3 separate regions of the Homo sapiens genome follow, and all the other regions are linked to region 2. The links come from fine-mapping of genetic effects on gene expression. A gene starts in region 2. Each other region holds a variant in brackets. All regions are shown on one strand. Distances are from middle to middle.

Evidence for each region. PIP is the estimated chance that this variant, and not a neighbour inherited with it, causes the effect.
Region 1: its variant is fine-mapped to the expression of FMN1 in whole blood (INTERVAL, PIP 0.95).
Region 3: its variant is fine-mapped to the expression of FMN1 in testis (GTEx, PIP 0.91).

Annotation. Positions count from the first base shown.
Region 1 is chr15:33,108,933-33,117,201 of GRCh38, forward strand. The region is part of intron 4 of FMN1 (formin 1); the gene reads right to left. Among named protein-coding and RNA genes, the nearest start is that of FMN1, 82 kb to the right of the region's middle. The variant T/C (reference allele first, on the strand shown) is at 3,919.
Region 2 is chr15:33,190,304-33,198,572 of GRCh38, forward strand. It overlaps FMN1 (formin 1), which reads right to left and starts at 4,411. Exons shown (of 21, transcript NM_001277313.2): 1 at 4,275-4,411; 2 at 3,606-3,757. It overlaps LOC105370759 (a long non-coding RNA gene), which reads left to right and starts at 4,608. Exons shown (of 3, transcript XR_932090.3): 1 at 4,608-5,272. RefSeq lists silencers at 4,390-4,729, 4,504-4,713.
Region 3 is chr15:33,130,037-33,138,305 of GRCh38, forward strand. The region is part of intron 4 of FMN1 (formin 1); the gene reads right to left. Among named protein-coding and RNA genes, the nearest start is that of FMN1, 61 kb to the right of the region's middle. The variant G/A (reference allele first, on the strand shown) is at 3,123.

The DNA of each region.
Region 1 (8,269 bases), 81 kb before region 2:
AATCCTTCAGACAATCAATCAGTTACCAGGACAGAGAAGGAGTTATCCAGTCTAATACTAAAAATGTCCCCATGCCTACAATTAACCCAAGAATAAACTAAACAACCTAGCAAACTTGTCATAACTTTACCATTTATAACCTATTTCTTCTCCCAAAAGCAAGGAAGGCATAAAACATACTTGGTCTAGAGTGTGCTAGACTCTATTCAAGACAAAGATGGATACTTGGTTTAGTAACAAACTAAAATATTTTATTAAATTAACGAATGTCTTTGTTCTAAAATGCAAGTAAGGTTTTTGAGGTTCCTGTACAAAAACAACATAGAAATCCACTATAGTTTCCTTACTTTTGTCAAAACATTAATAGATAAATGGCCAAAGGGAAAATAAAAATAAACAACCAATGAGTATGGGGAAATTTTAAACACCATTAGTAATAGCTAAAAGAATTGCAAGCCAAATGAAATGCGAGCACTATTCACAATAGCAAAGACAGGGAATCAACCTAATGTCAATCGATGACAGATTGGATAAAGAAAATGTGGTATATATAACACCATGGAATACTACACAGCCATAAAAAAGAATGAAATCATGTCTTTTGTGGGAACATGGATGGAGCTGGAGGCTACTATCCTTAGCAAACTAAGGCAGGAACAGAAAATCAAATACTGCGTGTTCTCACTTATAAGCAAGAGCTACATGGTAAGAACTTATGAACACAAAGAAGGAAACAAATACTGGGGCATACTTAATGGGGGAGCATGAGAGGAGGGAGAGAAACAGAAACAATATTCGATACTGGGCCTAATACCTGGGTGATGAAATAATATGTACAACAACCCCCCATGACACGTTTACCTATGTAACAAATCTTTACATGTATCCCCAAATCTAAAATGAAAGTTAAAAAAAAAAAATGCAAGCTCAAAGAACATTTCACTGTAAATCAGGAAGTCTAAAACCTTAAAAACCTAAAAAAGTAAGACAGTGCCCATGGATGTTTAAGTTAGCACCAGCACTTCACCTAGCAACTGGACACAGCAAGTTCCCATTAAATATTTATTGAATACATAAATGGGTAAGTGCACGAATACTCTTCAGGCAAAAAGTATATTGAATAAAATTTGGAGAAACAATTTGGTAATAAATATTAAAATAACTGATAATTGTCATACTTTTGACAATATAACGCTTCTCCTAGGAATCTACCATAAACAAATTCTCTAAAATGCAAACATTCTATGCAAAAATACCTGTCAGATTATTAGGACACTAAAAAACCATAAGCAAGTAAAGTGTCCAGAATTAGGTAAATAATACATAGATGGTCTATTCTCTTTGCAGAATTGTTCACAATAACTGAAACAATATTTATGAAAAGTTAAAAAACACAGGAAATGCTTATAACATGTGGAACCAAAAGGTTATGTATCAAGTTCAGGAAATTTTTTAAAGTACAGTAAAAAGACTGGAAATAAATGTAAATTTTAGCAGTAATTTTTCTATGGGTGGTGATAATGGAAGGTTTTTTTCGTATCCTTATGAATCTTCTATATTTTTCTATAATGGCCATATAATAGTTTTGTAACAAAAAGGTAAAATTCTGTATTAACCAAGGAGAGCATTTTTTGAGAATAGCTATTCTGTCATGCATCTCAAATAATATCAGTAAAACACGTCCCCCCGCCCCTCACATTGACGCTTCTTTTTCTTTTTAATATTTGATTATATTCAGATTAAATTTATATAAACACAGATCATTAAAGCATTTTGATGACTAACAGTCTTTTATTTAAAAATGCAATATTAAATCCCAATTAAAACTATTTTGCTATTCCTTTAGCCATTTTCTCTGTTATTAAAACAAAAATAAGAACAACTTGTCAGTATTTTTAGTCCATTAAAATTTTCCCACATTAAAACAATTTTTAATGTCTTGGCATGCAGTATATTTTTACTAACCTTAAAGAAGTTCTAAAAACAACTCCTTTACATTTTTCAAGATGCCTTTGTACAGCAATTATGATAATTATTCCGAGTAAATGAGTTAACACATGTGAAAAAGTGCTATGGAATTATAAACTGCCATTCAAATGTTAGTTTTACATTTTTATGGTATGCTATTCCTGACCTTACATTCATTTCTCATGGCATATTTCCATTTCCCTCACAATCTATGAGATGATTCATTTGTGTGTTTTCCATGGTGCTTTGCACATGCCCTCTATAAATCACACTGATTTTTAAAATGTACATTGTAAAATGCTTTCAACCCTACACAAGTTAATTTAAAAAATAAAAAAACTTAAAGGATCCTTTGAAATGCAAATCGAAACCTCAGTAGGATACCACTTCACTGGGATGGCTATAATTAAAAAGGCAGATAACAACAAGTGTTCATGAGGCTGTGAAGAAGTTGGGACTCTCACAAGATTGCTGGTGGGAGCCTAAAATGGTACAGCAGCTCCAGAAAACAGTCTTGGCATTTCCTCAAAAGGTTAAATCAAGAATTAGAATACAACTCAGCAATTTCACTCCTAGAAATAAATCCAAGAAATATAAAAGCACATGTCCACACAAAAACTTGTACACAAATGTTCGTAGCATTACGCATAATAGCCAAAAGGTGGAAATAACTCAAATGTTTGTCTACTTATGAATGGATAAACAAAATGTGCTATATCCATATGAAGGAGTATCTTTTGCCTATAAAAAAATCTCAAAAACATGCTAAGTAGATGTGGCCAGTCACAAAGACCACAATATTGCATGATACCACTTACATGAAATTTCCAGAACAGGCAAATCTACGGAGGCAGAAAGAAGCTCAGTGATAACTTGGGCTGGACGGGGTTGTGGGAAAATGGTGAGTGACTTCTGATGGTATGGGGGTTTTGGGGGAGGTGATGAAAATGTTATAAAGTTGATTTTGATGATGGTTGTACAACTGAATATATTAGAAACCACTGAATTGTACATTTTAAATGAGTGAATTATATGGCATGTGTATTATATCTTAATAAAGCTGTTTTTAAAAAGACTCAAGTTACCATTTTATATGAATTGGTTGTATCACATTTTACTGTAATTTTTTGGAAAGAACTGTAGTGTTAACAAAGTTTTTGTATCTTTTTACAATTTCATGTCTATGAAAACAAAAAGCTATATAAATAAAGATTTTAACCACAGCATTTTTATTGGTTTCAACTTGGAAACAATTTAAATGTCTAATAATGGATTTAGTACCATAGTCATCTACATGATAAAATGTTACCCCTTAAAATTATAAAGGTATAATTAAAGAGATGGTATATAAACATTAGAAGTTTGAAATAATGTTAGGTGGCAGTGCATAAAACAAAATATTTTTATATAATTTTGTTTCCATGACCTTTGTTATTTAAAAACACCTATCTCTATGAAGAGTTGAGGTGGTTGGATTATAGAAGATTTTGTTGTTCTGTACTAGTTTTCTTACATAATTCTTTTAATTAAGAAAAGAGGAACTGTTATTGCTCCATTAAACAAGTACTAAGCACAACTATGCAATGAAATTAAAAGGTTCCCTAGAGATGCCGAACCTAAGAGCATTCGGTACCTGCAGCAAAGAATTTCAGGCACTAGTGCTTAGTTTAACCCCTATCATAAAAACACTCCAAAGATATTAGAGGCAAGAAGGTGGTTACAAAAATTCCAGCTCATCAACTGACTGGCCTATATTCTACTTGTACATCTGGTGTATTTTTTCACCACTACTTGTTGAGTACGTGATAACAGTCACGGCTGCCCAATCAACAGAATTTTAGGATATTTTCCCTGTTCTGCTAGAGATCACATGGGAAATGTGGGTTGCTAGGAAGTGGTGTGGGTAAATGGCAAGAAATGAAGGGCATTTGCAGCAGAGTTATCCAAATG[T/C]CAAGGCCTACACAGCTACTGGGTTTATATCGTCAGAAAGGTTAAGCCTCCAGGTTACAGCTGCCCTAGGCAGTCCTGGTGTACTGGGACAAAGGGGAAGGCAGGGAAAGTCTAAGAGAACCTTCGCTGTTAGGTGCTTTGACAACAGTGTCTTCTCTATTTTCTTCACAATGCCTCAGTGTGGCGGAACAAAAGAACAAAATACTTATATCTAAAGTACAACCAAAGTGTTTAACACCCCCAAGGCATATCTACCTCTCAATATGCTGTTTCAAATATCTGCATTTATTGGTGTAATTTGGATGCTTTGTGGCCAAAGCTTGACCTGTGTACTGTGTGATCATTTGTTAGGGGGTTGCTCACTTTCTGACATATTCTTACCTAAAGGTCAGTGGGCTCCTTGACATGAATTCAAACAACTTCAGTGAAGTAATTAAACAGGATGAGTGTTGCCATGTATTTGTAACGTAGGTCCACTACAAAATTTGAATTATCTATTGTTTTAAACTATATAAGCTTATTTTTTTCAATTAATAGTTCAGTGATTTCATTCCAGCCTTTCTTTCTTTACAAAATTTTTGTTGTTGTCTTATACTGTTTATGTAACATAGATGTGAACATAGGGTACGATATAGACAATTATGCAGCCTCTTTTTTCCAACAACAGTTTGCTCCTCCATGAAGTACGACCCTGCTCCCCCATCTTTAGTCAATACCTGCGCTCCTACAGAAAACACAAAAATCATCCAGTGTCAGTATACGGAGGCACCTTCCTCTACAGCCCACCTCATACCCCAATTTAAATAGTACCACCACCCACCTTCTGTTACTTCTCCCCCTTCTAGACAGGGGCCCCACGTTGAACACTGTGCATTGGATTCCTGGTGCTCCACCTCAGAGCCAGCTTCCATGGCCACGTCAGTTCTTTCATCTGTGACTCCTTCCAGACGGTCTTACAGCTGAGGCCCCTGAGGTACCAGCACACTTCAAAACAGAGCCTTCTTTAACAATGAAACCCTGACTGGAAACTGCTTCTACTGTTCCTTTAATTAGCCTTAACGATGTTTTCACCCACAAGTGTGGGAAACCAGATCCTTAGCCACCTACCTGCTCCTTAGCTCAGGAATTGCTCTAGGCTCAGTTATCTAAGGTCCAAGTCAAGCCTCCTCCCCTTGGCAGTTCTCCAAGATCTTGTAAGCTGGTTTCCTACCCAACACCTTCTCTTGGAGCAGCTCTGTTCAGAATTGTCAGCCCGGTTTCCCTCTGAGCCTGTTCTGCCGTCAAGGTCCTATAGGACACTACTGCTAGTGCCTGCCCTTTATATCTCAATGTGCTGCAAGATTGGACAGGAGGCACCACATGGCCTCCTAGGCCAGGCCTATGGGTTATTATTTCTACAAGTCCTTGCTTGTCCAAGGACGAGGAATGAAGCAGCTCAGGACTCTAAAGTATAGCATCCTAAAAGCCTAACTTCTGGACAGTGACATAAGAAGAAATAATTGGCCTCTGGCTGCCTGAACATTTAGACCTAAACATAAATATATGCAGAAATGATAAAAATATGAATATTTTGCAAAGAATCTGCATAAGTGTTGAACATGGAATGTGTGGCCAGTGGATTCCGGAAGCCTGTCTGTCACATCTGTTCCGTTTCAGAAACAAGTCATTGTCGATCCAATCATTTGAATCATCCAGTCGCTTGTTTGTGTACCCAAGAACACCACGCAAACGCGAGTCTCTCCTCGTCTCATGACAAAAGCACTTAGGATTTCCTTCCCCTGCCACATGACCAACAATGCACCTTCTTTTGGAGAGAGCCTGTGGGTAAATAGTCACAACTGCTGTAATGTCTCCTAAACTATAAACTCCATATTTCTCATCACCTGACAGGTAGCATGACCCAAATGCCCCAAAACAACTACAGAACTATCATTAAAGGAATAGAAATAATCCTACTTTAGCTGATAAAATTTAAGATCTTTGACTTCTGGAAATTAACTTTTTTCCCCTCCCTTATTTTGCCTATCCATGTTTGAAAAGATGCAAGCATCTCTACGTTACTGTCCAGCCAGCTAACTGAAAAGTTTAGGGGTCTGGTGGCTGGGCAGGCCTCAGAAGATAAACTGACCTGCACTGATCCTTCATTCAATATATGATCCATGTATTGATTTTATAGAGTCCTCAAGACTTCATCTATCAATCAGTCAAAATGCTGATTAAGCACCCACTATGCCAGGCACGGAATCATATGATACAAAGATAACTAAGACAAGGCCCTTGCCTTCAAGGAGTCCAGTCTCCCATGGGGAAAATGAAGAACTAAATAAATTCTTAGAATTTAAGTGTTAAAAGGAGAGTACTTAAGAAATAAAGAGCAGAGTTGCCTAAGGCTGTCCTATAAGGAGGGTGGGAGGCTAGGAGTCACAATGGGACACTTCTCATGGGAAATAATACTTGAAGGATGAATAAAATCTAACGAGTCAAATCAGAAGAAACATGTACACATAAAAGAATGTATGTGTAAGAAGATGGCATATTTTCAACGGACTGGTATGTGGGTTGCTTATGAAAGAGGTAGGCAAGGCTCAGGTTGAGGTCCTTGTGTACAGCCTTGCTAAGGAAACTGGATTTCATCCTTAAGCCCCCCCCCCCCACACACACACGCACACACACAAACTTGCTGTCTTGCCAGCCTCCCTCACATACACCCTCCCCCACCTCTCCTATCTTTTACATTCAAATAATTCTTCCACAACCACAATACACTGAGCACCTGAAATCCAGCTGTGCACAGCACCTGCATCAGGTAATTGTCTGGAAATTCTTGCCTGTTTCCTCTAAACCTGTTCTTCCTCACCCTTCCTGCCTCTCATATCCCTAAACCTATGCTCCGCTCCCATGTTGCTATTTCTGGCCAGACTTTCAGTTACCACTTAGAAGTTCCCTTTCCACCTTATGGCTTGACTCTTAACTCTTTGTGGTCATGAGATTTTATTAACCTTAGCAGCTTCCAATGAGAGGAATTCTCCACCACCTTTACTCCAACCAGCAAATCCATTTGCATCATTATTCATTTCAACTAGATTCTCTCACACACCTGCTTGCAATAATAGTAAGTTTCTCAGGTAGCTTTGGGCTGGGCTGAATTAAAGAATTTTCTTAGGGTGAATGGGGACTGTAATCACTCACCTTAAAGGTATATCCAGAAAGACTATAGAGATCCAACTATAAAAAGACATTCCTGAGTTTTAGCTATGTCCCTGGCATTTGGATAGTACTATGGTTTTCCTTAGCCTTATTAGTAGTTACTTAAATCCCCATTTATACAGAAAAAAGATGTAAACGTAGACTAACTTTTTCACTGGGATTGACCTAGTCTAGGAAGCATAATGTTCTACTTTCCTTTATACCTGTTTATAAAACTCTTTTAAAGTATCCTTGGTTCACATTAATCTGTGCTTCATCCAAGGACAAGCTTTGGAAAATCACAGCAGCCAAGTTGCAACAAATCCGAGGCAGCCAACTGTTCAAACCGTGTTCAAATAAGGCAAACGCCCAGCTGTAGCCAATCCAGCTGTTTCTATGCCTCATTTCCGTTTTCTGTCTATAAATGTTATCCGACCATGCGGCAGCCCTGAAGTCATTCTAAGCCTATTCTTGTTCTGGGGGCTGATTCAAGAATCGTTCTTTGCTCAATTAAATTCTGTTAAATTTAGTTTGTCGAAAGTTTTTTTTTTAATTTTTTAACACCTCCCAGGCTTAAATTATTTCTGCTCATTATTTGGCACTCCATTCCAGCCTCTTCCAGCAAAACTGCCTGTGATAAAGCAGTTGTAGAGAGGAAATTCATATTGAAGCCCAAACATGATTATAAGATGCGAAAACAAATAATACTAGATATGGCTTTTTTTTCCCTCATGAGAAATAGTCGACAAAGTATAGGCCTTGAATTCAGGAAGGTTACTATCCATCTGACTTTGGGCAGGTCCTTCATAGAGAAAATGGAAATAACAGAGATCTTTCGAAAGTTTGTTGAGGATTAAAGAAAACGAAGTACTTGAAACACGTTTTACAGCACTCAATAAATGCTTATTATTACTATTGTTTCCACCAATACAACACTACCACTATTCCTATCATTACCACAACCAATTAAGTGTGGCACTGACCCAAATTTCAGAGGAGCTATGGACGATCCTGCAGAGACTGAGAAATATCCTATTTGAAATAAAGTTAGCCTCAGATCCAGGTAAATCACTTACATAGTGAGAGCTTAAGAACAATGGAGGATCTAGTTTGGAGAAATTACTCCCCTCTAACAACTCTCACGGAGTCCCCAACCCCTACTCCA
Region 2 (8,269 bases):
TACAGTCACCTGTGTGCTGCTCAAAAGATGGCATTCATTCAATTTCATTTGAATTTCATTTGTGCAAATATTAAGGTTTTGGAAACCATGAGGTTTCCCAAAATTACTATGGTGAGTGAATCACCAGGGAGGGCTTCTCCTAATAAGTAGACAGTTCTCTTTCTCTTTGAGAGGTCCATATTTTTCCTTATGTTTCACGGAGGACATCATTGGAGAAAGCACCTAGGCCTAGATGAATGTGGATAGATACTCACGTGGGGGAAAAATGGAAAAACAGGGCAACTATGGCTAAAGGAGTGTTTAACAACAAGCACTGCTGTCTGACGCATTTCTAGACTACTAGTCTTCAGATCGTATCATGTTCTCTGAGCTTCTTTAACAAAAACATGAACTAGAGCACTCATACTGGAAGGCCTGTGGCAGGGGTGTGAGTACTAGTATCCTGGCAGCAGCATCATAAAGGTGTCTCCTGCCCCACTTTTACAGCCTTGTCTATCCTCCCAGTCAGCATTCTGGCGGTCCCTGCTACTTCTCCATTAATGCCCAGATCCTGATGACAAACATGAACGTTAAAAAGTCCTGGCTGGCCGGACGTGGTAACTCACGCCTGTAATCCCAGCACTTTGGAAGGCCGAGGCAGGCAGATCACAAGGTCAGGAGATCAAGACCATCCTGGCTAACACGGTGAAACCCCATCTCTACTAAAAATACAAAAAATTAGCCAGGCGTGGTGGTGGGCACCTGTAGACCCAGCTATTCAGGAGGCTGAAGCAGGAGAATGGCGTGAACCCGGGAGGCGGAGCTTGCAGTGTGTTGAGACCGTGCCACTGCACTCCAGCCTGGGCAACAGAGCGAGACTCCATCTCAAAAAAAAAAAAAAAGTCCTGGCTACCTCCAAAATATTTTGCCCAATAGCCTGTCACGTGGAAGACCACAGTAAAAAAGCGTTTCATTTGAAAGGTGTTCATCATTAGCAGTGACCTATGACACTTTAGAAGGAAGAGATAGGCATAGTTCGAATAAGATGGAACATAAAACAAGTCAGTATCAAGTTAAGGAAATAGGAGGTGTGTTGGTTAAAGAAAAAAAAACTTAACTAGTAGTCTGCTTCCTAGAGAGATGCATTACAGAGATCATGGTCATTTCAGGCCAGTGGGGAGGTAAGGATGTCCACAAGGAGGACCAACTCTCTTCTCTCTCCCTCATCCTCAAACATGCACTAAGGCAGTATTTGCTGAAAGCGTAGATAAGCACAGAAATCCAGGTTACTCTGGGAGATTGTTTACTTTTAGCCAGGGAACTTGAGAAACATAAGTGAGAGGGAATGCTCCATTTCTCAGACCCTTGCTTTTATGCGCTGACAAGGTAAAGAGGTTTGTTTCCTTCTTTACATCTCCCCGCTTTAGTAATTACTATTTTGCAGAGCATGGGGTTGATGCTTTGTCAGCACTTCAGCACAGACACTAAATACAGAGATGCTTCAGTTCCTTCACAGTGCCAGCCTGTTGGTGCAAGCTTATATTTGCTGCAGGAGAATACAATTCCCATGGTTTAGCGTCTCTGCAAGATCAGGCAAATCAGATTAACAGCTGTAATTCTGTCAACACAGGCTGGGACCTGTTGAGAATTAAGCTGATATTTAAGACAGAGACTATGTACATCTAAAAATAATAGCTACTCTTAAAACCAGGTCCCAAAAAGAGATTATGAATAGCCCCTAAACGTGGTCATACTACCAACCAGTAGCATCACTGCAAGATATGAAATATCCATTATGAACTTTTACACTGATACGAATAAAGTTTTAATAAGAAAACCATTAAAGGCAAGATCATCTAAAGCACACCACAGCTTGGGATGGTGTGCATGAATCCAAAACTTTAACGTAAAACTAGACTTTGAGGCATGGTATATGAGATAGGAGAGAAGCATTTCTCAATTTTCTATCAAGGATATTTACCATCATCACATCAAGTTCCAGTCTGTCCCCATTCCTCTTCCTCTGGGAACAGCTCCACCAATTTTATGTCTGGAAAGGGAGGATGACCAGGATATGAGACCTACCCTTAGACAATCATAGGTCCTATGGGACCCCATTCCCTTGGCCAAAGCATTTGGTCTAGGCAGGGTTAAGCCTGTGACAAAGGCTTCATCAATCACAGTCAATGCATTGAACACTCAGTGAGAAAGAAGCAGTCTAGAATAGGGCCAGAGGCCTGGAAATCTTCTCTAAAGCTGCATCTTTAACGTATCTCAACTAAGAATCGGCTAAGTACTTGTGAAGGCTGGTGAGAGAAATGCCTGTCCAAACACAGGTGGCTTCAATAGTGGCACCCCTCTAAGATGTAGTGCTATAAGGAACCTGAAGACTACCATACCCCATTTGCATCAGCTCTGACACCTAAAAAGGATAAAGACAATGGAAAAAAATGCATAATTTTTAGGAACGAGACTGGCCTTTATTATCCTTCTTGACTAGTATTATTAATAGCAGTTACTATAAATTCCCCACTTATGTGCCAGAAACTACTGAGTATTTTACCTATATTATCTCGTTTAATCCTCACACCTTCTCCTAAGAGACAGGTAGTATTATCCCTATTTTACAGACGAGAAATTAAAATTAAAGAGGCAAGCAACTTGCAAAAATCACTGAGCTAGTCAGTGGCTGGTCCAGGATTTGAACCTATGTCTGACAGGTTTATGAGTTTAGCCATTACAATATACTGTCTCACTACTCTTCTCCATTGTTTCCCTCCATTGAGGCCATTGCTTCTTTGTTCCTGCAATATGTCTAACTATTCATTGGTCCTGCTCCTGGACTGTAACACAGTTGAGAGAAAGGAGACTAGTGTTTAGATATCTGATCAAGAAGACCCGAGACCTCATTGATTCATTGTGGAAGCAACATCTTCCACAACGACAGTTAATCTGGTATGCAATTCTCAGCTATACTGTTTTCCCTCCCAAAAAAGGGTTAATAAGTCTGTGATCCAAGAGATTTGCAGTAAGCCCTAGAAACAGCTAAGCAACGGCTGTTGAATCCCATTGGTGTGCCTATAAGATGCTACCTGGTGTAGAGAACAGAATATAATTCTCTCTCCTAGGAATTTAGATGCGCCCCTCCGCCCCCCTGCCAATACACACGCAAGGGGGCATAGCAGATGATGGCACATGTCCCATATGCAAACATGAATAGTAAACATGCTTTAGTACAGCTGGAGCTACTGTAGCAGAAAGTCAGGTTGTCTGCTACTCCACCTGGTCTTCTTAAAGGATTGGGTCTGGACATTCACCTCTCAGTGACTGCCACTCCCCATATATATCACAGGTTCAGGCTCTGCATTCAGCCCATTCGGAGTGTGTGAGTGCTAACATGGAACTCTCCAGGAGACAGCAAGCAGAAATGTGGATGATTAAAATAAAGGGTTTTCTTTGGCAATCTCAATTGCAAATGAGGATAAGGAAAATCCTCCCAGCTCACACTCTGCTCCCAGCTACTTGTTCTTGAGTTAAATGAGGGCTTGGCTCTGGCCTCAGGGGGCAAGAGCACTGTTCGTTATTTGGTGGTGGGGGAGGGGGTTGGGGGATCCGTCAGCACTTACATGCCTTTAGAGAATCTGCCTTTACAGAACTTGAAGAGCTCTGATGGAGGAACAGAGATGCTGTGGTGGTAGTGGCCTTGGAGGTGGTGGTAGTGGCAATGGTGATGATGATGATGATGAAAGAAGAAGAAAACGGTGATGGTAAATGTCATCTATAAACACAAGCAAAAAGCAGCAACAGATACCTTTCTAGTCATTGCCAACCATAGTCATGAAGCTGCTTCTGTTCCCAATGCAATCCCATTGTGGTGCTCCCCCTCTGCGCTAAACACATCCAGCTTCAAAAAAAAAAAAAAAAAAAAAAAAAAGCTCTGCATCTCTCCGTCCCCCGCCCTCCCGCCCTCCCGCCCTCCACCTTTCCTGTGCCAAGCTGGGAATGAGACTGCACTGGCGGGTCAAGGGGGCTGGGACCTGAGAGTCAACGACAGGAGTTCTGTAGTGAGGAGCGTTGGGATGACCCGGAGGGCCCACCAACGTACTTGGGAGCAGCTTGGTGGGGGAGCTGGAGGAACCGACACAGAAGGGGAGGAAGATAAGCTGGCGGGGTAAATAGACTTGATGCCTCATTCCAAGAACCCTGAAAGCCACGGGGGAAGGCGGAGCAGGCAGCCTTTGGTCGGGAAGAAGAGACGGGCAGATGGCCAGCAGAACAGACAAGACTCTCTTTACCTGACCAATACTCGGGAGGCTGGTCCCGAGTCCCAGCTACTCGGGAGGCTGAGGCAGGAGGATTGCTTACGGCAACAGCCGTGGCGGCTGCAGCCTCGAAGGATGCTGCGCTCCAGTCCAGAGCCAAAGCCCAAAGGGGCAGCTGCGCCGACCTCCACCGAGGCTCCGCCCCACAGGCCACAGGCCCCGCCTTCCTAGCACGCGCCGGCCTGACGAGCTGTTTGGGGGAGGTGAGCAGTAAACTGATCGGCAGGGCTGAAGACCAGTGGAAACGTGCAGCGGCGCCCGAGGTGGCAGGGGAGGCGGGGCGGGAGGCGGCGGTGCCCAATCAGCAGCCGAGCCGTTGGGCCAGGCTGGGAAGCAGTGCTGTCTTTTGGCACCGTCTGATCCGGGCTGAGGGATTGAAGGCGGTGGTCGCTAAGCTAGGTCTAAGACGGACAGCCAGGGCGACAACCAGTCTCTCGCTACGTGTCCCCAGCTTCCCTGTTTCCGAGCGCCTCTCAAGGCGCACGCTCTGGACTTGTTCAGATGGGGGAAGGGAACTGGTCTGGAACTCCCCACTATTCCCGAGGTTCCCACGCCTCCAGATCCGGAGAGGCCGTTTCGCTCCAGTGGCCTGGCCCCCCTGCCCCCTCAGCCTAGCCGTTCTTGATCGTAAGTGCTAAAAGGAACAAAGAAGGAGAATTCAAGAATCCACACATAAGCCCAAACCCTGACAGGAGCCTTTTCCTCTCCCATCTCCTGCCTACGCTTCCTCCTAGTAGCTTTTTAACTGCTGGCGGTTAAGTTACTTTGACTGGTTTGAATTAAACGCAAAATAGGTTTAGGCTGAGAAATGGGCCAGACCCTTGGCGATCTGAGAAAGAAAGACTGAGTCCGGATGTCAAGAGGCCTGGGCCTCACGAGGGAGTTTGTCTGCTTATTTGAACACCTCAGAGTTGAAGATCTTGTTACTGCTATTTCTGTGCTGGTGAATCAGTACAGACCTTGATGCCAAGGTACTGTTTTGTCCCCAAGTGTCTAATCATTACTGAAATGAACTACCTTCAAACCTTTCCTAAGAGGATTTGAGGCCTTAATGTCGTTGAGATTTGGAATGTGATTTGAGTGACACTGAGATCTTTTCCAAGTAGGTAGGCAAGAAAAGGCATTGTCTTTAATCTGCTTTTGGATAAATGCGAACTGTATCACCCATTTGGTACTTGAAGATAGAATTTTGTCCTGAATAGATTCTGTTTTCAAATAAGTAAATGGGAAAAAAATTTGGAAGGTATTTTTAAGGTGATTTTTTTCACTATTTTTTTTCTAGAAATAATAGTTTATTGGAACTCTGATTTATTCTTAATCACAATATTAGCCAAACACTGATAGGCCCTTTATTTATTTGTTTTTTTAACACACGGTCTCACTCTGTCACCCAGGCTGGGGTGCAGTGGTGCGATCTTGGCTCACTGCAGCCTCAACCCCGTGGGCTAAAGCCATCCTCCCAACTCAGCCTCCAAAGTACCTGGGACTACAGGCGGGCACCACCATGTCCAGCTAATTTTTTAATTTTTTATTTGTAGGGACAGGGTTTCACCATATTGCCCAAGCTGGTCTCAAACTCCTAAGCTCAAGCGATCTTCCCTTCTCAGCCTCCCAAAATGCCGAGATTACAGTTGTGAAGTGCTGTGCCCGGCTCCATAGGCACTTCATATACATTATCTCCTTCAATCCTCATATCTTCCCCTTGTAAATTCCACTTATAGATAAGAAAACTGAGGTTCCCAAAGTTCAAGTAATTGTCCTTGGGTCATGTTCGTAGTTAGGAGTAGAGTCAATACGAGGTCCGTATATCTCCTGTCTAAAAATCATCATCATCAGTTAGAAGAATAAGAAGCCCTCAGTACGACTCTTAATTCCTTGATGCTTTTTTCTTTTTACCTGAAAATTGTCATATAGGGATCCAGTTTTCACACTACTGACTTCTTGAAACCGCAGCCTCAGAAGCACCTTTAAGAGTGAAGTGTCACCTCTGACATGTGTTAGGAGCAATTGCAAGTCAACTTTGCTCATAGAAGGGAGCTGTGATTTCCTATTGTTGGGAAGGAAGTAAAATTTTGCAGGGCTTAAGTCAAACTAGGTTTTAATTGATGTAGAAATCTTTTAAAGTCCACCCACAAAATAATATCATGGTCGTGTGAGCTGAGTCCTAGAAAGGTAAAAGGATGTTAATCCAAAGTCATATTCCAGCATTGTTTCAACAGTGTTCTGAAGAAATTCCTAAATCCTACTCTGGCCTTTAATCAAACCTGGAAATATGTACTTGCTCTAAGCTTGGTAGGGGGAGGGAGTAGGAGGTGTTTTAAAGAGAAAGGAGAAGAAAAATATTTTCCCAAAGAGGCTATTAATAAAGACAAAATATAAATAAGTTAAAGGTTATAGATCAATACAAAGGTATACACTAATTAACAAGTTAGTGGAGTTTTGTTTTGTTTTGTTTTGTTTTGTTTTGTTTTGTTTTGTTTGAGACAATTTCACTCTGTCACCCAGGCTGGAGTACACTGGTGTAATCTCGGCTCACTACAACCTCTGTCTCTCAGGTTCAAGTGATTCTCCTGCCTCAGCCTCCTGAGTAGCTGGGACTACAGGCATACACTACCATGCCTGGCTATTTTTTGTGTTTTTAATAGAGATGGGGTTTCACCATGTCGTCCAGGCTGGTCTCGAACTCCTGACCTCAAGCAATCTGCCCGCCTCGGCCTCCCAAAGTGCTGGGATTACAGGCGTGAGCCACCATGCCCAGCTTGTTAGTGGAGTATTTATGTGATCCTTGCTTAATAAACAGTTACTGGCCGAGAGGATTGCATGGACCCAGGAGTTTGAGACCAGACTGGGCAACACAGTGAGACCCTATCTCTACAAAAAATAAATGTTAAAAAATTAGCTGGGTGTGGTGGTGCATGCCTGTAGTCCCAGGTACTCGAGAGGCCGAGGCAGGAGGATCACTTAAGCCCTCGCACTGCAGCCTGGGTGACAGAGCTAGATCCTGTCTCAAAATAAAAAATAAAAAATGAAAAAATAAACAGCTACTAAGTGCCTAATATATGTTATTGTACTAGACTCTAGGGATATCCAGTTCAATAAAGCCCATTTCCTAATGGAAATGCACAGCCTAGCTGAGAACACTCAATCTGGACCATACCTGAAGAGATCACTTTATCAACAAAATTACTAATCTTCACAACCACCCAGCAGGGTAGGTGTTATCACCACCTCAAGGCTGAGGAAACTCGGACTAGAGAGGATAGTGACTCACTTGAGGTTGCAAGTTTAAGAAAAAGTCTTGACCCCAAATCATTCTGACCTGGAGGCCCACATTTTCTTTCTTTCCTTTTTTTTTTTTTTTTTTTTGACGGAGTCTCTGTTGTCCAGGCTGGAGTGCAGTGGCGCAGTCTCGGCTCACTGCAACCTCCGCCTCCTGGGTTCAAGCGATTCTCCTGCCTCAGCCTCCTGAGTAGCTGGGATTACAGGTGCCCTACCCAGCTAATTTTTTGTGTTTTTAGTAGAGATGGGATTTCACCATGTTGGCCAGGCTGGTCTCAAACTCCTGACCCAGTGATCTGCCCGCCTCAGCCTCCCAAAGTGCTGGGATTACAGGCATGAGCCACCAAGCCCGGCCAAGGCCCACATTTTCACAATATACCATACTGCCTGCCTAAGAGAAAAAGCTGTCTCTGATAATCCTTACCGAAATGCATTCCTCTGTGGAACATGTGAAGTAGATGATACAATGCCTATGAATTCGAAATTACTAAATTTGGTCAATTTGCTTATCAAAGGGAACCAAGAAAACGGAAATAATGGTCCTTGCCTACCTGGGGCTTAAGGTACTATTTACACATTCTCGTTTGAAGTCCCCAGGGGTAAATAGGATTTCATGGGATTCCCCATTCATTCCTGTGTTATTATATACATATATTTTAATATATATAATACATATATAATTAATTTTA
Region 3 (8,269 bases), 60 kb before region 2:
TGGTGATCCACCTCGTGATCCACCTGACCTCGTGATCCACCTGCCTTGGCCTTCCAAAGTACTGGGATTATAGGCATGAGCCACAGCACCCAGCCTATTTTTTCATTCTTGATCCAAGTTCCTGCAAATTCAGAAAACCTTCCTCTTATGCCAGTTAAGATTGCCCTGCTAGCATTTTCTTTCTATTTTCATTATTTATTATAACTATTTATGTCATTGAGGAGAAATTCGTTGTGTTCAGAAGACTGTACAGAACTCAAAATATTGCCCTACATGTATATACATAAATATACACACTTCAAAACTAAATATATAGACAATTTTTCAAATGCTTAAGGTTAAGAATCAGTTTTATGAAACAATGTAGAAATATCAACAGAGATTGAGACAAGTTGTGGGCTGCACTGTAGTTTATTATAGCAAAGATCAGCAACCTAAGAATGAGATAAGGAGGTTTAAAAAATTAAGGTGATTTCATCCACTGGAGTATGTGCAAACATTAAAATTAATTTTAAGCAATTTTGATGACAAGAAAATGCTGTGATATAAGGCAATTTTGTTAATAGGTATATGCATTTTCAAAAGCCCAAATCATTAAGTGATAATTTCAGAGTTTTAGGGTTTGGAGCAGTTTTTATGTATTAGTTTTAAAAATAATTTGAGTCTCCAGTATGTATGTAATACCACACTGAATATTATTAGAGTCTGTATTCGTTTCAGAGTCAAAACACTTACATTTGCTTGTCTATTAAGATGTTTTGATTTAATTTTATTTATTTTATTTTTGGGCTGTTATAATTTTTAAAACTTGTACTGAGAAAAACTAGATGGGAGATTTGGTTCTATTTCTTACTAGCTGTGTTTCTTTAGCCAAGGTTACTTCAATTCTAGGCTTCAGTTTCTACATCTGTAGAGCAAACAATACTTGTGATGGTTGTCATAGAGTTGGTAGGAGAATCAGATAGAATAATGTCTATGAAAGAGCACTGTAAACTGTAAAAAGCTGTATTAGGCCGGGTGCGGTGGCTCATGCCTGTAATCCCAGCACTTTGGGGGGCCGAGGCAGGTGGATCACCTGAGGTCAGGAATTTGAGACCAGCCTGGCCAAATACAAAAAATTACAAAAAATACAAATACAAAAAATTAGCTAGGTGTGGTGGTGGACACCTGTAATCCCAGCTACTCGGGAGGCTGAGGCGGAAGAATCACTTGAACCCAGGAGGCAGAGGCTGCAGTGAGCTGAGATCGCTCCACTGCACTCCAGCCTGGGTGACAGAGTGAGACTCCATCTCAAAAAAAAAAAAAAAAAAAAAGCTGTATTAAAATCAGGATGTGCAGATGTGCATGGTTATTATTTTTATTGACTTTTATGGCTCTCTTTCTGAACAAGTAAATGTCAGCTGAAGATGGAAACAAGTGTTGAAAACGATCTCTAATCATAACTAGTCATTGATATACTTTCTCACTGTGTGTCAGTGTGGCCCAGACCACTGCATATTCTTCATGATCTCTCACAAACTGTGAACGTAATAATATGCAACACCAAGTGCTTGCTGCAGGAAATATCCTTCAAAAATACAACTACCCCACTGTGAGTTTCATGCAGAGAGATAATATCACTGTAGGCCACCTCCTCAAAGCAACCAGCCCGAGCAGCCATGAGGATAGGCCATCAGGAAACTGATGGGGAGGGGAGGTCTGAGCCCTGGAAAAGTGCAGTACAAAGGTGTAGTCAACACTTACTAGGTAAGTGGCCTCTGAGGGCAATGCAGCCTCAAGTGAGTGAAACATCTCTACCATGCTATTAAATGCTGTTTAAGTAGATGTGATAAAAGCATTTTAAGATCCCCAAAGAAAGATACTAGTCTGAATAGCACGGATCATTATTTTTCCACACCTGCTTTGACCCTCTCTACAAGAAGGAGAGAACAAGAACAAGATAAAGGCAGTCAAGTCCCAGGAAGTGCCCCGAAATGACCTTTGCCTTCCTTTCCACCTGGGGCAATCATTCAGACCAGTTAGGCAAAGGATCTAAAATAACATCTTCCACAGCTGGCTTGGAAGAAAGTCAAGAATTTTCTTTTCCCTCCTTTCTTTATTCCCATTACTCACTCTCTAAGTCCTCAGCTTGTCTCCCCTTCCCCCTCTTCCTTCTTTCCTGGCTGTAATATGCTTGTCTCAATTCTAATAATACCAAATATAAGCAGCTGAATATTTTCAATAAATCAGCACTTCTCCAAAACTACTCAACAGCTTCAGCTTCTCTATAACCACACTTCTCATTCCCGCTCTCTTGTACTACTGTAGTCTATCACTTTCAAGATGAAAGAATCAGCTAGTCTTTCTCAGAACTCAGCACGTAGGCTTCAGGCATAAAGAAGCTGCCTGTGTGCAACTGGCTCCTGTAAGGAATACTATATTTCTTTCCAATGTAGCCCACATCATGTCATTTGGAAAAGGAGCCTCAGACCAGAGCTGATTTAGAGCTCTGTAAGTCACAGAAAAGTGCCAGGTCGTTTGCAGTATTAATATTATATGCATGTATTATACCCAGGATACTCACCACACCTAAGAGCGGAGGGAAGAATTGCAACAGGAACATCCAAACCTGCAGCTTTCCAGCCTATTATTCTTCTTGGTGAGACATAAACCTAAAAGAACTTCGGGGGCCTTGGTGATTTGTTTCCTAGGAACACCTTTAATTTCCTTTTGTAATTTCAGACAGCACAGCCACTTGAACTCTTCCATCACTGTCTCTAGCTCCTCCCATGCACATGCCTGCCTGGACCTGTACCTCTTTGACCACATCTTCAAGATGTCTCCACAATAATCCAACCTGGAGAAGTCCAGAGGGGTTGTTAGTCTGTGAGCACACACCCCCCTCTACTGGACAAAACATGAAGAAACATACATGCCTGGGAAAGGACCACAGAATTCTGGAACAGAAAGGAATGCCTAATTAACTGCCCTCGCTTTGTAAAACCCAGGCCTACAGAAGTGCCCCAAGTCACAGACTTATAACAGGGATAGGGGGCCAAGCACTGCATCTCTTTGCCTCCCACATCAGGCACCATCACTACATAGAACTGTGTGTCCCTCAACAGTTAACTCACAAGGAAGAG[G/A]GGATTATGCAACTGAGTTCATGGGGATCTTTAGGTTATGAGTTAGAACCCTCCCAAGGCACAGCCATCAACAAAGAAGGAGAGTGTGTGGTTGAAAGAACAGTGCGCTGGGAGTCAGGGACTTGGTCTCTAGTCCCAGTTCCAGCACCTACAGCCTCTGCGACTCTGAGCAAGACACAGTCCCTGAGCTTCTCAGAGATCAGTCTTCTGGTCTCTAAGGAACCTCTCACAATATGAACACAGATCTATGGTTCTCTGTAAATGGCTGGGCCAAAGAGTACGAACAGGGCCATAGAAACTGTAGAAGAAAGAGCATTAACTGGAGTGCTAGAGACCTGTTTCCTAATTCTGGCTCTGGTGCCCATTAGCTACTTGACCTAAGGAAAGTCACTCTCTGGAACTCTGGCTTAGAAATAGAGATGAGGCTAGATGACCTTCTCAACCCCACAGTTTCTGTAATTGTGGCTAATGATAACTGTAAGTATGAATGCTTTCTTCAAAGGATCCTAAAGCCACAGGGGCATGTTGATACATCTTTGGGACAATGGAAGGAACATTAACGTTTCTACCCGTTTTATAATAAATGTAACTAAGGGCAAATATATCAAACTATTTGCTCAGAGTTCAGAAAAGCACAATTAGGTGTGCCGACTTCCAACCTGTGCTATAGATGAAACATTAGTCCAGGATACTAAGATCAAACCACAAAGCTTTTATAAGCCATGCCAGCCATCTATAAAATGATAAGTAGACCTAATAAATTACAAAATTAGATAATTAATTCTACATCTCATTTTATTTTTTATTTATTTATTTTGAGGAAAGGTCTCACTCTCCCAGGCTGGAGTGCAGTGGCACAGTCATCGCTCACTGCAGCCTTGAACTCCCTCAGGTGATCTCCCACCTCAGTCTCCCAAGTAGCTGGGACTACAGGCACACAACACATGCCCAGCTAATTTTTTGTATTTTCTGTAGAGATAGGGTTTTGCCATGCTGGTCGGGCTGGTCTCAAACTCCTGGGCTCAAGTGATCTTCCTGTCTCGGCCTCTTAAAGAGCTGGGATTACAAGTGTGAGCCACTACACCCAGCCAATTTACAATTTTAAGTGGGATTATAGAAAATAACATAACAATTAAATAAAGAGACAAAACTGTGGCAAGGATGCCACTGGATGGCCCAGGGATGTCTCAGGAGGCAGTTGTGGGGGAGGATGCTGAGGTAACAGTTCCACCTCACCTCACCCCAAATTACCCAGTGAACAACCATCTAAATAAAAAGTGTGTGTTTGGCATGTAAATGCAGTTTCAAAACAAGTTCTCTAGCTGCCTCATCACCTCACCTTGCACCTGGCTGCTGCACTATGGGAGTTCTAGATCCGCTAGACATTAGGGGAAACAGTAGTCGATTGGGGTAGCCTCACAACCAACGTTTGGGCTGTGGGCCACAAAGTCAAGTGGAGAGCACCGAAAGGAGAAGAAAGAAAAGAACTATGATCCTACAAGTTGCTTAAGCTCTCTGACATTCAGCTATCTCACTTTTTCTGAAAAATTTAAAAATGGAAGGCCAGGTGCGGTGGCTCACGCCTATAATCCCAGCACTTTGGGAGGCCAAGGTGGGCAGATTACCTGAGGTCAGATGTTCAAGACCAGCCTGGCGAACATGGCAAAACCCCATCTCTACTAAAAGTACAAAATTTAGCCAGGCGTGGTGGCTTATGCCTGTAATCCCAGCTACTCAAGAGGCTGAAGCAGGAGAATCGCTTGAACCTGGAAGGTGGAGGTTGCAGTGAGCCAAGATCGTGCCACTGCACTCCAGCCTGGGTGACAGAGTGAGACTCCGTCTCAAAAATAAATAAATAAGTAGGAAAACATTTTGAGTTACAATGTTTCACAGCTAAAATAAAGGTAGCCTATACATGGGAAATATTTTGCTTTTTGAGTTTCTCCCTTCATATTATCTTCCAAAGCCCCGCTTTTTTTGGTCTCCCAAGGAATGTTTTTTAAGTGTCAAAATTCACACAAAATGTTTGACTTGCACTTTAGATGTTAAATATACAACTATTTGAGGATCTTGCGCTAGAAGGTTCTCTACATAAATTATTTTTTCAAAAGGCCAGTGTAACCTTTTGAGAGTCTTTATCATCTCACCCTTTTTCTGAAGTCCTGTTTTGTAAAAATGTGCCCTTAGAAATAAAGAGAATATTGATTTTGCAATGTTGGTACAAACTGGACAACAGCAGGAAGATCTCAAAATAAGATAAGCCACTGCACAGCACAGCACAGAATAACCCAGTTAGGGAGGAGAATGTCTGCTCTGTCAGTCTGTCTTCCCTGGCACTGCTTCTCGCTGGCATCAAGTAGGAAAGATCCCTTTCAGCTTGACACAAGTATGCACTGTCCTTCTGAAATATGAGAAAAGCAGTTCCCTCAGGAACAAGGAGGCCTCGTGCCAGAGGTTAGTGAAGCTGGAGAAACCGAGAGCTTGGCTGGCAAGGACTGTGTAAGATGGGACTCTCTCTGTTGGAATGCTAGTGGAATCAGTTAGGTTACTTCCCCAAGGTTATGCAATGTTCTTAAAATATACTACTTAACACTGGATAGAATTCTTATCGTGCATTGCGTACCAATACTAACTGTTCTATTCTATGAACCAAAAAAACCATGGAATGTCTTTTCCCATCACCCACATGCCCTGCTGTACATAGAGTATACAATTGGCTGATTATGTTTTGGTCTTCACCCTTCTAGAATGAGTGTGAGCTCCATGAGGACAGGAATTAGCTTTGCTTTTTTCTGTTTTGCCTACTGCTCTGTCTACTATACTTAGAACAATGATGAATATATGATAGGGATTCAATAAATATTTGTTGAATAAAAAATGTTTTGAATGCTTTTGTAGATATAAATATAAATAATCAGAATGATGGAGCTGTGTTCACTACTTAAGTTCAGAGCAGATGGCTTCATGGCCACTGAAATTATCCCCATGACATCACAATGTGGTACAAAGGGAGGACACAGGATTTAACATCAATGTTGTCCCTCTGCTGTTTACTTAGCAAGGTACCCTCTCTGAGTCTTAGCTCCATCCTCACTCAAAGAGAGATGTCATTATCTGCTTCAGGGACAGGACTGTTAAAAATTGCACAAAAGTATATGTCTTGGAGAGGTTTAAATTTCATGGGAGAATATGAAAAACACACATTTTTATGCATATATACAGTCTACCCACGTAGACAAGAAAGACGTATAACCATAAACACAGAGACAGACGTGTTTGGGAAGAGCTTCAAATAGGACTATGGAATAGTTCTTAAACTCCCACTTCCTAATTTTATAACAGATTTCAGGGTGAAAATGTCTAAGCAAGTGGTTTTTTTTGATGAACCATGTTTTAGTTATTTCCTCCTAAAAACAGAAGCAAGGATCGTGGTAATGGCTCTACAGGGTTTGGCTCTGAAATGTGTCATCAGTCAAGATAAATTTGTGCTGGTCAATATAACCCTAAAAACAATGTTTTCTCTTTAATTTCTATCACCTGTTTTAAAGGTATTTTTATCTGCTATATTGAATGCAAGTCCCTTAAATGATTTCTGGAATGAGGTAGAACATAACCAAATAAATAATTTTTTAAAGTAGACAGAAACATGCCAGGCATGGTGGCTCACGCCTGTAATCCCAGCACTTTGGGAGGCCAACGCAGGCAGATCACCTGAGATCAGGAGTTCGAAACCAGCCTGGCCAACATGGTGAAACCCTGTCTCTACTAAAAATACAAAAGTTAGCCAGGCGTGGTGGCGGGAGCCTGTAGTCCCAGCTACCTGGGAGGCTGAAGCAGAAGAATCGCTTGAACCCGGGAGGCAGAGGTTGCAGTGAGCCAAAATCACAACACTGCACTCCAGCCTGGGCGACAGAGCAAGACCCCGTCTCAAAAAAAAAAAAAAAAAAAAAAAAAAAGACAGAAAAACATACCCTCCCCAAACAGGGATTTTTAAGAGAATCTGATAACAATGTATGTAAAAGTTCTGGGTAAGCAATGAAGTGTGTACCCACAGATGTCACTGAAATTGGTGGTTCTTATTCACAGCTGGCTTTCAGCCCATGCCACCCTTGCCTTTCCCCATTCCCTGTTGCCATGGGACCTTCACTGTTGCCTGCACTCAGTAGCAAAGCACCTCTTCTACATTTGCCTCTTCTACTTAAGAGGCCAGGGTAGGAGTTTTAGAAGCATTCCAGAGTTCCCTCTGCCTACCTTGAATGAGAAGGGTAGCTATATATATTTCTAAGAGGAAAAAGGAAATCTGTATGATTCCAAACTAATCCCAAAGAGTAAGACATGACTGATCAGTAGAGCCCCAGATTAATGAGCTCAGAGGATAATGTTTAATGATATCACCAAAGAAGTGTCCACATTTCTTCCCAGGAGAGGATTCTGATTTTTATTCAGATTCCATACAAGAAATTACTTTTCCTACCACCACCGGACAATGTATTTCCTTTCAACATACTATGTAAAATGCTTGCACATTTCTTTACACTGGGGTATGGCTTCTCTACATGATTACAGACATCAGAGCTAAGAGGGGAGCATCAGGTACTGCGGTTTCTTAAAGAACCCACCACCATACAGCTTGCCCAACAAATTGCCCTTCTGCTGTGTTCCAGGTTTTCAACTCATCCCCTGTTACAAGGCACAGTCATGAAGAGATGAGGGACTGCAGCTGCAGTCGGCCAGACCTGGTGTGACTCTGGGTTCTGCCTCTTATTAGCTGGGTGACATGGGCCACGTACTTCACTTCTCTGACTTTCCATTGCTTCCTCTGTAAGATGGAGATAATAATAACTATTGTGTAGATTATGGTTTGGCTTCAATACAATATTTGTCAACTGTCCAAGTCAGTATCTGGTACACAAGAATAAAGGACTGCTGTTGCTGTTACTGCTATTTGTTAACCAGTATCCATAAGCACAACTGCCTGCTATGACACAGGACAACGAAAGTGATGAAGGCACATGAGCAGATAAAATAAACATTGGAAAAGGCCTCCAGGAAATGCTCTGTCAGCAGGAACACTATCATTGACTGCCTGTACTTGAGGGAATCAGATTTCTATCGAGTAACCTAAAGATGAGTAGGTGAAATGTATC